Linked DNA regions of Homo sapiens: region 2 is linked to region 1. Evidence: fine-mapped expression QTL. A gene starts in region 1. The other region holds a variant in brackets. All regions are shown on one strand. Distances are between the middles of the regions. Region 1 holds the start of GLRX2 (glutaredoxin 2). Region 2 overlaps CDC73 (cell division cycle 73).

What was found. PIP is the estimated chance that this variant, and not a neighbour inherited with it, causes the effect.
Region 2: its variant is the best candidate, but not a certain one, in a credible set for the expression of GLRX2 in whole blood (TOPMed, PIP 0.63).

Annotation. Positions count from the first base shown.
Region 1 is chr1:193,102,370-193,107,615 of GRCh38, reverse strand. GLRX2 (glutaredoxin 2) reads left to right here and starts at 2,202. Exons shown (of 4, transcript NM_197962.3): 1 at 2,202-2,352. The coding sequence starts at 2,234. RefSeq lists silencers at 2,024-2,263, 2,043-2,337, 2,314-2,413.
Region 2 is chr1:193,253,136-193,258,381 of GRCh38, reverse strand. It overlaps CDC73 (cell division cycle 73), which reads right to left. Exons shown (of 17, transcript NM_024529.5): 17 at 3,567-5,246. Among named protein-coding and RNA genes, the nearest start is that of LINC01031, 49 kb to the left of the region's middle. The variant A/G (reference allele first, on the strand shown) is at 3,100.

The DNA of each region.
Region 1 (5,246 bases):
TGCTCGGCTAATTTTTGTATTTTCAGTTGAGATGGGGTTTCATCATATTGGCCAGGCTGGTCTTGAACTCCTGACCTCAGTTGATCCACCCATCTCAGCTTCCCAAAGTGCTGGGATTACAGGCGTGAGCCACCGCACCTGGCCCCATTTTCTTTCTTGTGTGCAAGTGTGAGAACACAAGATCTACCCTCTTAGCAAATTTCAAGCATACATTGCGATTTTCCTAACTATAGTCACATTGCTGTACTTTAGCTCTCTAGAACTTACCTATCTCGCATAATTGAAACTCTGTACCCTTTGACCAACATCTCCCCATTTCCACCTTCTCCCAGGCCCTGGCAACCACCGTTCTACTGTCTGCTGACATATTTCTTAACTTGCTATTGCAGTCATCACAACTATGACCAAAAATAATAATCACTTCTGTAGCTACCCCACGAAGCACAAAGAAGTTGAAAATTATCAATATATTTATTAATATATTATGCTGAATTCAGGCATAACACTTTCTTCTGAAGTACTTTACATTCTGAAATCCTTAAAAAAATCTGTCCAGTGAATTCTGTGCTTGATAATAGTCCATCTATGCTGTATTAAAATTAAATTGTAACATGATCGGTTCACCTCATAATGATCTTTATTTCATAAAACAATTTGAGATGAGGTAAAATTTGACTTCAAAACTAACATAACACCATAAATTTCCAAAATAGTTTTATAAAAAAATTAAAAAGCCCACAACACTATAGATAGATAACATACCTTAATTTTTATTTTATTTTATTTATTTATTTTTTTATGAGACGGAGTTTTGCTCTTGTTGCCCAGGCTGGAGTGCAATCGTGTGATCTTGGCTCACTGCAAACTCTGCCTCATGGATTCAAGCGATTCTCCTGCCTCAGCCTCCCGAGTAGCTGGGATTACGGGCATGCGCCACCACGCCCGGCTAATTTTGTATTTTTAGTAGAGACGGCGTTTCACCAATATTGGAGGGGCTGGTCTTGAACCCCCAACCTCAGGTGACCCGCCCGCCTCGGCTTCCTAAAGTGCTGGGATTACAGGACTGGCCACTGCGGGAGCTGCGGCAGCTGCGGCCTCTGGGTACGGGGTCAGCGGGCAGTCCTGTAATGGCCACATTACAGGACAGGCCATCGCGCCTGGCCACATGCCTTAATTTTCAAAGTCAAATTTGTCTTTAAAAAGAATGAATTCCTACCCTTTGGGGGTATTTATTTTTGCAACTAACTTCCATCCTTTTATTAAGTAATCAAACATAGCCCATTTGAATGTTGGAAAAGAACTGTCAGAAATACAAGTTCTTATTTTGTACTTTGGTAACATGAATTTTACACTTAGTTGAACATGAAGAATCAAAAAAGCTCTGGATTGTTGTAATAATTGTTTAGAATTTTAGATGTACCATTTGACCTTTGACTTTAAGATGAATTTCAGTGTCCTCAGTAAATAAAGGCTTACCCCCAACCTTAAATAGTGACGCACAAAGGCTATTATTACCACCACTGAGTGGCTTAAATAATCCTGTCAACAGCAATCGCCCATTTCCAAAGCCATGGTGAAACATCTCTGTGCTAATTTCTTTTGTTTTGTTTCCTAATTTTTTTTTTTTGGCAGGTGGTGGGAAATAATCTTTGTCTTCTTTGGAGTAAACCTTCAACACCGGATTTTTTCTTTTAATTATGGATGTAAACCCCAATATCCCCATAATTTACATTGGGTCTCGACCAATTGCCTAATTATAAGAGGATATATTTAGGCTCTTATTTCATCCACACAAAAACTTGTGTAACAGGTAGTTGGAAACATCTGAGGCACCACTTTGATTCTGTTTTGGATGGTCATGTTTTTTCTCCTCCGTTTCCCCAGCATGTCTGCCACCATCCTCATGCACTGCTTCCAAGTGCCTGGGAGCCTTTATGAGCGTCCCTAAACCTAAAAGAATCCAGAGGCGGGGCTCGGATGAACCCTCGAGATAAGCAAGTGAGCCGCTTCTCCCCTCTAAAGGATGTTTACACGTGGGTGGCACTCGCTGGAATCCAGCGCTCGGGCAGCCCTGGGAGGACGCGCTCAGCTGCGAGGAGGTGACCGGCGGCGGCGCGGGCAGTCCGGAGGGGCGGGACGGGGCGGGGCAAGGCGGGGGCCGGGCCGGAGGAGGCGGGCTCCCGGGATCCGCGGTGTCCGGCAGTAGAGCTCGCTGCAGATCCGGGCTCTGACCATGATTTGGCGCCGCGCGGCGCTGGCGGGGACGCGGCTGGTTTGGAGCAGGAGCGGCTCGGCAGGCTGGCTTGACAGGGCGGCGGGAGCTGCGGGAGCTGCGGCAGCTGCGGCCTCTGGGTACGGGGTCAGCGGGCAGGAGTGCCGCGGCGTGGTGCGCAGGCCTTGCGGGGGTCTGGAGAAAGCGGTGGGCGGAGGTGCCCCTTTGCCCCGGCGCCGGGTGGGCGAGGCGTACTAGCGCGTGGGCTCTGAGTCATAACACGCAGAGGCGCTCGAGGGATGGGCAGGGAAGGGTGCCCTCCGCGGCTGTGCTGACTTCAGGAGCCTGTGACTCTCGCGTTGAAAATACTTCACTCATGTTCACTTAGGCCATCCCTCTGTGAATTGCTACATAAAATACAAGACGCCGCAATCAATTGGAATTTCTCTGAAAGAGCGAATGATTCTTAGTCCAAGTGTGTCCCAAATACTGCAGTGGACATAGGAAAAACGGAACAGTTTTCTGGTGTTTGGTTACAATTCTAATTTGACCGGGCGTCCTGCATTCTTGTTTGCTAAACTTAGCCACCCTACTGCAGGAAGTGAAGGCGATGATTCCCGCTGAATGGCCAGAGCTTTTAGGATAGAGGCTGACTGATGGTGATGCCGCCTGCGGCTAGACCGAGGATAGTGCTTTCCTTACACTTCCTCGTTTGGAATATCAGCGGCTTCGGGACCTGCAGTGGAAGGGAACTGCGGCTGTGCTGCCCACGCCCGCGCGGCTGGTGCCTGGCGGTCCTGCCGGCTCGCACTTCCGCGCCTGCCACTGCGCACTTGGCCGGAGAGTCTGTCTCGCTATCTACTTGATCTGGGAGCTTCTATCAGTTTTGCAAGATTCTAGGAATCTCAAGTTTAACTTTCCAGACCAAGCTAGAGACCCCTCCTGAAGGGCTAATCACAGGCTGTTAAGTGTTTGACAGCTCTTTGAGGCCCCGCCGTGTTTTTTTCTGCGTATCCCTGGGGTCAATATAGCACTTTGCCTACTTAGCACACAGTAGGCGCTCCATAAATGTGGCATGACTAGGTGCTTCATCTGTGTTGAAATGAAATGTTTATTGTGCACTTACTTCCTCCGTGCATGTTTCTATTCATAGTTCGCGACAGTTTTTACCAAGGTCAACTAGAAATTGAAGGGAAAGGGTGTCTTCCAGAAACTTTTATTTGGGTAATATTTCAGAATGCACCTCCTACCTCCTCTCACTACCCAAGAAAACATTCTCTTGTGTTCTATTGGAGCTCCTTCAGTAGTAAATGCTGTAGTAGATGGTTTGGGTATGACAGTTTAAGTGCTGGACCTGAGATGAAAGGACTTGCTTTCTTAGTTGATAAACCAAATACAGCTTGCTGATTTATTCCACCAATGCTCTTCCTTAGGGCTAGGCCAGTGCTGCCTAACCTTTTCTGGTTTAGGCTTCAGGAACTCAACTTTCTTTTATCTTAAAGCTTCACCCTCCTCTCAGGTTGGCTGCAGTCTCCCTAGCTCGCTACCCTTAACTCCTTCCTGAGTTAAGCGCACAGGACTTTTTTTTTTGTTTTAAAGTGTTCCTTGCTAATACTATTAGGAAGCAAGGAATAATAGATTGTAAACATTGGGTAGGTTATAATGTTATAATGTTTAATTCCTGTCTCTTACTCTTCTTTGTTATAACTGAACAAACTGATGTTTGCTGTAGCTTCCTCACTCTAGGTGAGCTGATATCATAATCGTTCCCCCTTATCCGTGGTGGACACGTTCCAAGACCCTCGGTGGATGCCTAAAACCTCGGATAGTACTGAACCCTATACATGCTATTTTCCTATACATACTTGCCTATGATAAAGTTTAATTTATAAATTAGGCAGAGTAAGAGATTAACAACAATAATAAAAGAACAATCACTTTAATAACAAAATGCTCATTTCAAGGAATCCCTTGCTGAATCTTCTCATAGGCCCAGTGCTTTTTGGCATAACACATTGCTGTCAGTTGGAACACTTTTTCTGTTCTTGTCTCCACAAATTTAATACCTTTTCTGGCTTAACTAAGCACTTATACCTTGTGGCTGTAACTTGCAGTTTGAGGTGTGACATCAAAACTGCCATGAATTTTTTACTTCTTTACAACTGCACTGATAGAAGATCCGTTCTTACCATAGACCTTAGCAACCTCAGCGTGTGATTTTTTTTTTCCTATTAGGTGGAGAACTTTCACCGTTTCACTTAAAGGAAGCACTTTAGGGCTTCTCTTTGACGTACCTGAATTGCCAGCATCACTACTCTAGTGGTTTGGAGCCATTATTATTATTATTATTTAAGACGGAGTTTCACTCTTGTTGGAGCCATTATTAAGTAAAATAAGGGTTACTTGAACACAAGCATCACCACACTGTGACAGTCGATCTGGTCACCAAGACAGCTGTTGACTAAAGCGTGGGGAGCTTATACAGAGTCCATATGCTGGACAAAGGGAGGATTCATACCCTGGGTAGGAGGAAGCTAGATGGCTCAAGATTTCATCATGCTACTTAAAACTTACGAACTATTTTCTTCTGAAATTTTCCATGTAATGTTTTTGGACCACAGCTGACCTTGGATAACTGAAACCGTGGATAAAGGGGGACTACTGTGTAGGGCAGATGTTCATTATCCAAGGATAAGATGTACTGGAAAAAGCTATTAGAGTGGATTCACTTAAAATAAGACTAGTATTTCAGGCCAGGCGCGGTGGCTTACACCTGTAATCCCAGCACTTTGGGAGGCCGAGGTAGGTTGATCATATGAGGTCAGGAGTTCGAGACCAGCATGGTCAACATGGTGAAACCCCATCTCTACTAAAAATACAAAAAATTAGCCAGGTGTGGTGGTACATACCTGTAGTGTCAGTGACTCGGGAGTCTGAGGCAGGAGAATTGTTTGAACCTGGGAAGCGGAGATTGCAGTGAGCCAAGATCACGCCACTGCACTCCAGGCTCGGTGACAGAGCAAGACTCCATCTC
Region 2 (5,246 bases), 150 kb before region 1:
GAACTGGCAAGGGAGTGAGTGAGAACGAAAAACTCAACATCAATCGCCAAAAAAGAAAAGGTAAACAACTTCATGCTTGCTAACATGGAAATGGATTTGGGTAAGATCTAGATAAAGTTCAGAATAGCATCTAACCATCTCACTGTAGGCAAAGAAAATTCACAACCTCCCAAGAATTCTCCCCTAAAACCCAGAACAAAGCAAACTGAGGAAATCAGCCAGCCCATAGAAAAGTCAAAGAAAAATCCTCAAGAATGAAAATGCTTTCCTACCACACTAAAATCTCCAGGGATTCCTTTTAGCCAGCCACCCACCATTGGGAACTGCTCAGGATATTCTCTCTTAGTAATGAATTGCACATACAACTGGGGGAAGTGACCCCCCAACTGGGGCAAGTGACCCCAGCACTTAATGAAACCTTAGAGGGCATAGCTCAGATTTTCCAACAAAGGTTTTAACCACTTTCAGTATCATTAAGCGACAAAAGTAGCAAAGAATACAAGAACTAGCCTCACATGAGAGCAAACTTAGAAAACAAGACTCAGAGGGTGGGAAGGCTGTCAATAGTGTCTTAGTAAAAGTCTTCATCATCTGGGCTAATGGGACAAGTATGTAATTCTTTAACAATTTGGATGTTGGAGAAAGGCACTGAAATGATCTATACCTTTAACATTTTATTAATTCATCTTTAAATATATTTTCATCTTTAAATATTCATCTTTAAATATCTAATCAAAGTTTTTAAAGCATGGATCCTGTAAAGCTAATGCCAACCAGTCACCGGTTACCTTCTCCTTGTTGCCATCTTTCTTCTCACTCCTATGCTTGTCATTCTCATTTCAACACTTACACGAGTAATTGCAGCCCCATAGATCCTTGACTCCTCATTTTAATGAATACCTCACCCTCTCTATCTCAGTTACTTCCAAGGTCTTGACTTTTTCTCATCAATATCAGATCACCTCTGAAGTCTTGACTTCACACATCCCATCCTCTGACCACCTCCCCCTATCTTTCAGGCTCACTTCATTGTTGTTATCAGTTCACAGGACAGCACCACTTTCTCACCATTCACCACCTTCCCTCTATCATGTATTCCTTGAACAGCTTAGATTCCATGTTTCAGTACTACAATTATTACCTTGAAAATATCTCCAACTCCCTGGCCTGCTTCTACTGCCATCAAAATAGCTTAAAAATCTAACTGCAATTCTCTATACCTGAAATCAAGCAACTAAATGTCACTGGAGAAAAATCACACTAGGTTTGCCTAGCTTTTCTTAAATTCATGACAACCCCAGAAGCATATAACGCTGTCCAAATTAGTATTTTCCCATTAAGCTGAAGTCGTCTTCTCCTCAAATTCCTACATCAAACTGCTTTAGCCTTAAACTACTTTAATGCATCTCAAATTTATTTCATCATCAGTGACCCTTACACTTCCTTTTTGTCCTCAGTAGTGCATTATGGAATAAAAATATATTATCTAAAAATATAAATATTTTAAAATTGTGATATAGTCAAGCCCTTTAAAAACATTAGTGATGCTTAATTGTGCTAAAACAACTGAATGAGCCACAAGGAAGTTCACTTGATCTCCCCCCATTTACACTGACTCGATAAACACTTTCAAACTATTCCATTTTAAAGAAAAATGTTTGTATTATTAAAAAGAGAGAAATAGATGGCCATTACACTTAGAGTATTAACATTGTGAACTCCATGAAGGCAGTTCTTCTGTGAGTATCCATTACTATATTTTATTAAAGTGAATATGTTGTATAACCCAATGTTTTGACTTGTACTTTGTTGGCAAAATAATCATAGTCCAATAAAATATCCAAATGTAATCAAAAGTATCTCCCAAATGTCTTCTGCTTCACTATGGTCTCAGCTCTATTTACATTACTTATGTAATAGAAATCATCATTCTCTAGATGAGGGTGAATTATAAACTATAAATAATTCTGTGTCAAAGGATCCACAAGTAATTATGAGACAGATTCAACAACAAAGCCTTCTTCAGAGCTACTTTACATTGTTTTCTAGGGTCATTTAAGAAAATAAAGAGGAAAAATTATTCCAACTCACCATAAATGCTGATAATTACATGAGTAAATATGAAAGTACTTCAGAAAATGAAAGAAAAAATGCTTATTTGGCAATGTGCTGTTATTTATATACTAGCACCTTTGAGCCTTAAAAAAATTCAACAGCATTTACAACACATGCTATATCTATTTTAGCTATGCAGATGCTCACTGAAAAGCAGATAATCAAAGGAACAGAACAGCAGAAATAAAATACATATTTAGTGGGCACTTATGAATTGAATAAAAATTAGGTTTGAATATAGCCCATTAAACTCATCATTAAAGAAATTTTGTTGCAGAAGATTCACAATTATTGGTACCACTGACATGATGCTGCTGTTAATGCTCTGATTATATGAGTACAGTTTGTTTTGAAACTACAAAATGTTAAAATCAGAATGCTCAAACTGTGAAGGTAATGTAATTTACCAGGACACACTCTTAATTCTACTATAATAATAACATAGAAAATTTGACCATAATCAAACAGTAAGTTCAGCAGAGCATGAACTTGCTACCATTACGAACTATGATTCTATACATTATTTAACTCGTTAACAGAAACTGTAAATGGTTTTAACTCATTAGTTTCCAAAGTGAAATTTATATTTCATTTATTCCTCAGAGAAATACTATGCCTGACAAATCCCAATAATCTTTTCATGTAAAGATAGCATTCCAGCCCACAATACAGCTTCTAACTTCTTCGTATGAATGTTTTTGGGGGATTGAGGACAAAGGGAGAATGGAAATGTCCCTAGTGCTCTTAAAACAAAATAGGGCAACATGTTTTATTTACAATTGAACCTAAAATTTAAGAGCCCACCAAACTGGAATCAGAATGAACAGAACAGGCCAGGCATGGTGGCTCACGCCTGTAATCCCAACATTTTGGGAAGCCGAGGCAGGTGGATCACCTGAGGTCAGGAGTTCAAGACCAGCCTGGCTAACATGGTGAAACTCTGTCTCCACTAAAAAATACAAATATAGCCAGGTGTGGTGGTGC[A/G]CACCCATAATCCCAGCTACTCGGGAGGCTGAGGCAGGAGAACTGCATGAACCCAGGAGGTGGAGGCTGCAGTGAGCCAAGATCGCAGCACTGCACTCCAGCCTGGGTGACAGAGTGAGACTCCATCTCAAAAACAAACAAAGAAAAACAAACAGAATGAAAAATAAAACAAAGAAAACAAAACAAAGAAAAACAAAAAGAATGAGTAGAATATTTTATGAGTTCACATGGCACCCAAACTTAAACTCTAATTAAGAACCACTTTGAGAAACAGCACCAACTGGTGGTTAAAAAATCACTTACAGCACTTACTCTATGTACATGAACTGCATTACTTATGAAGCATTATAATCAAACTCAGGTTAAATAGCTTTTAGTAAATTTAAAGTGGACAGAAATGGAATTCAATGGCAAACAAAATCCTCAGACAGATCATTTGCTTAAATTCGACATAGCATGAACCCCACTTTTTGAATTTTGGCAATAAAACTAGTTTTATTTCATTAGCTTTACTCATATAAAAATGCTTCCCACTTTTCAGTAAATGGCACATATTTATAACTTCCAAGATGCCCTTATAAAGATTACCTAAAATAATACACAGAAACCCAAAACACATAAAAAACCTGCAAGTATTATCTATTATATACTAACTAAATATAAATCTTTATACATCTATTATACATTTTCAATTTTTCCTTAGTTATTATTCCAACAGATATAAACAATGCTGGGATCAACATACTTGCAAATGTGCCAACAAATATGCCAGAATATATAGGACATGGCATTTCAAAATTCCCACTCCAATTCTTAACTTAAGTCAACTTTAGTCATTTCTCCACTTTTTATTTCTATCATTAGAATAGCTGGGTGAATCTCAAACACAAGTGAATAAATAGTAGAAATTCAGTCAAGTAATATTAAGGCTAATGTAATTAAATTTTCATGTTGTACTTTTTTAAAGAAACAGAGCAGCTGCCAACTTTTCAGCTGAGAACAAATTTCTATAGTTCTTATTTTATAAATTATTTCTCAGCATTCTATATGGACTTTAACCAGACAAACCAATAATTTCTTTATTAAGAATCTTTTTTTAAAAAGTATGTGTATATGAAGGGCTTTAATAAACTTCCAAAAAAATTAAAAATAAAAAATTTAAAAAGACTTATCTTACTCATAATTTTGCATTTAAACAAGCAATTTCAAAACACAAAGTTTACAGCTACTTTCTAAGCCATTAATTTGACTAGCTTTTATAAATAATTGTTGTATTTGTAATATTATAAAATATACTGCTAGTCTCAAAAAATTTTATATACTTTAGTTCAACAAATATTCCTCCCCACCCCTCCAAAAAAGAACAATGTAATCACTTTAATTTTTGTTAGCAGTCAGAAAAATTTTTATTTAGGAAAAATATTCCCTCAATATTTATTAGATAATGAATCTTATTTAAATGAATAGTTTACTTTTACTTTTCTGTGTAGACCAATTTAAAAGTATGCCACTTTCCTTTCATAAGCAAACTGTATTTGTCTCATTCTACATGGCAGATCAAAAATTAATACTTCTTTCTGCCTTAAAAATTATGAGATTTTCCTCATTATGAATTAGTTGTTTTTATATGGATTACTGTTGTGCTGCTAAAAACAAATGTTAGTAAAAGTTATGGAGACATGGGAAAAAAACAAACTATAATACTAGTTAATAATGAAATACATTAAACATTGTTTAAATATTAAACAGTAAAATACTCCTATATTAAATAAATAATTAAAAATTGCATTTGTCAATGGGAATATAGGCCAATACCACCAATAAAAGGGATGGTCTAGTGCAAAGGGTGGCCACAAAACAACAACAACAACAAAAAATCAAAAACCACACATACATACAGAAAAGAAGGAAGAGGAAACACATTTAATACTGGTACTGTTTTCAATAACAAATTAAACCAGTGATTCTGAATCCTTCCTGCACATTCAAATTACCTGGAGAACTTTAAAAAAAATACTGATGACCAGGTCTTGTCTCAAATTACATGAAAATGGGAATCAAGATTCAGGCATGGATATTTTTAAAAACTCTCCAAATGATTCTAAAATGCAGTCAGGGTTGAGAGCAACTGATTGAAACCTACATAT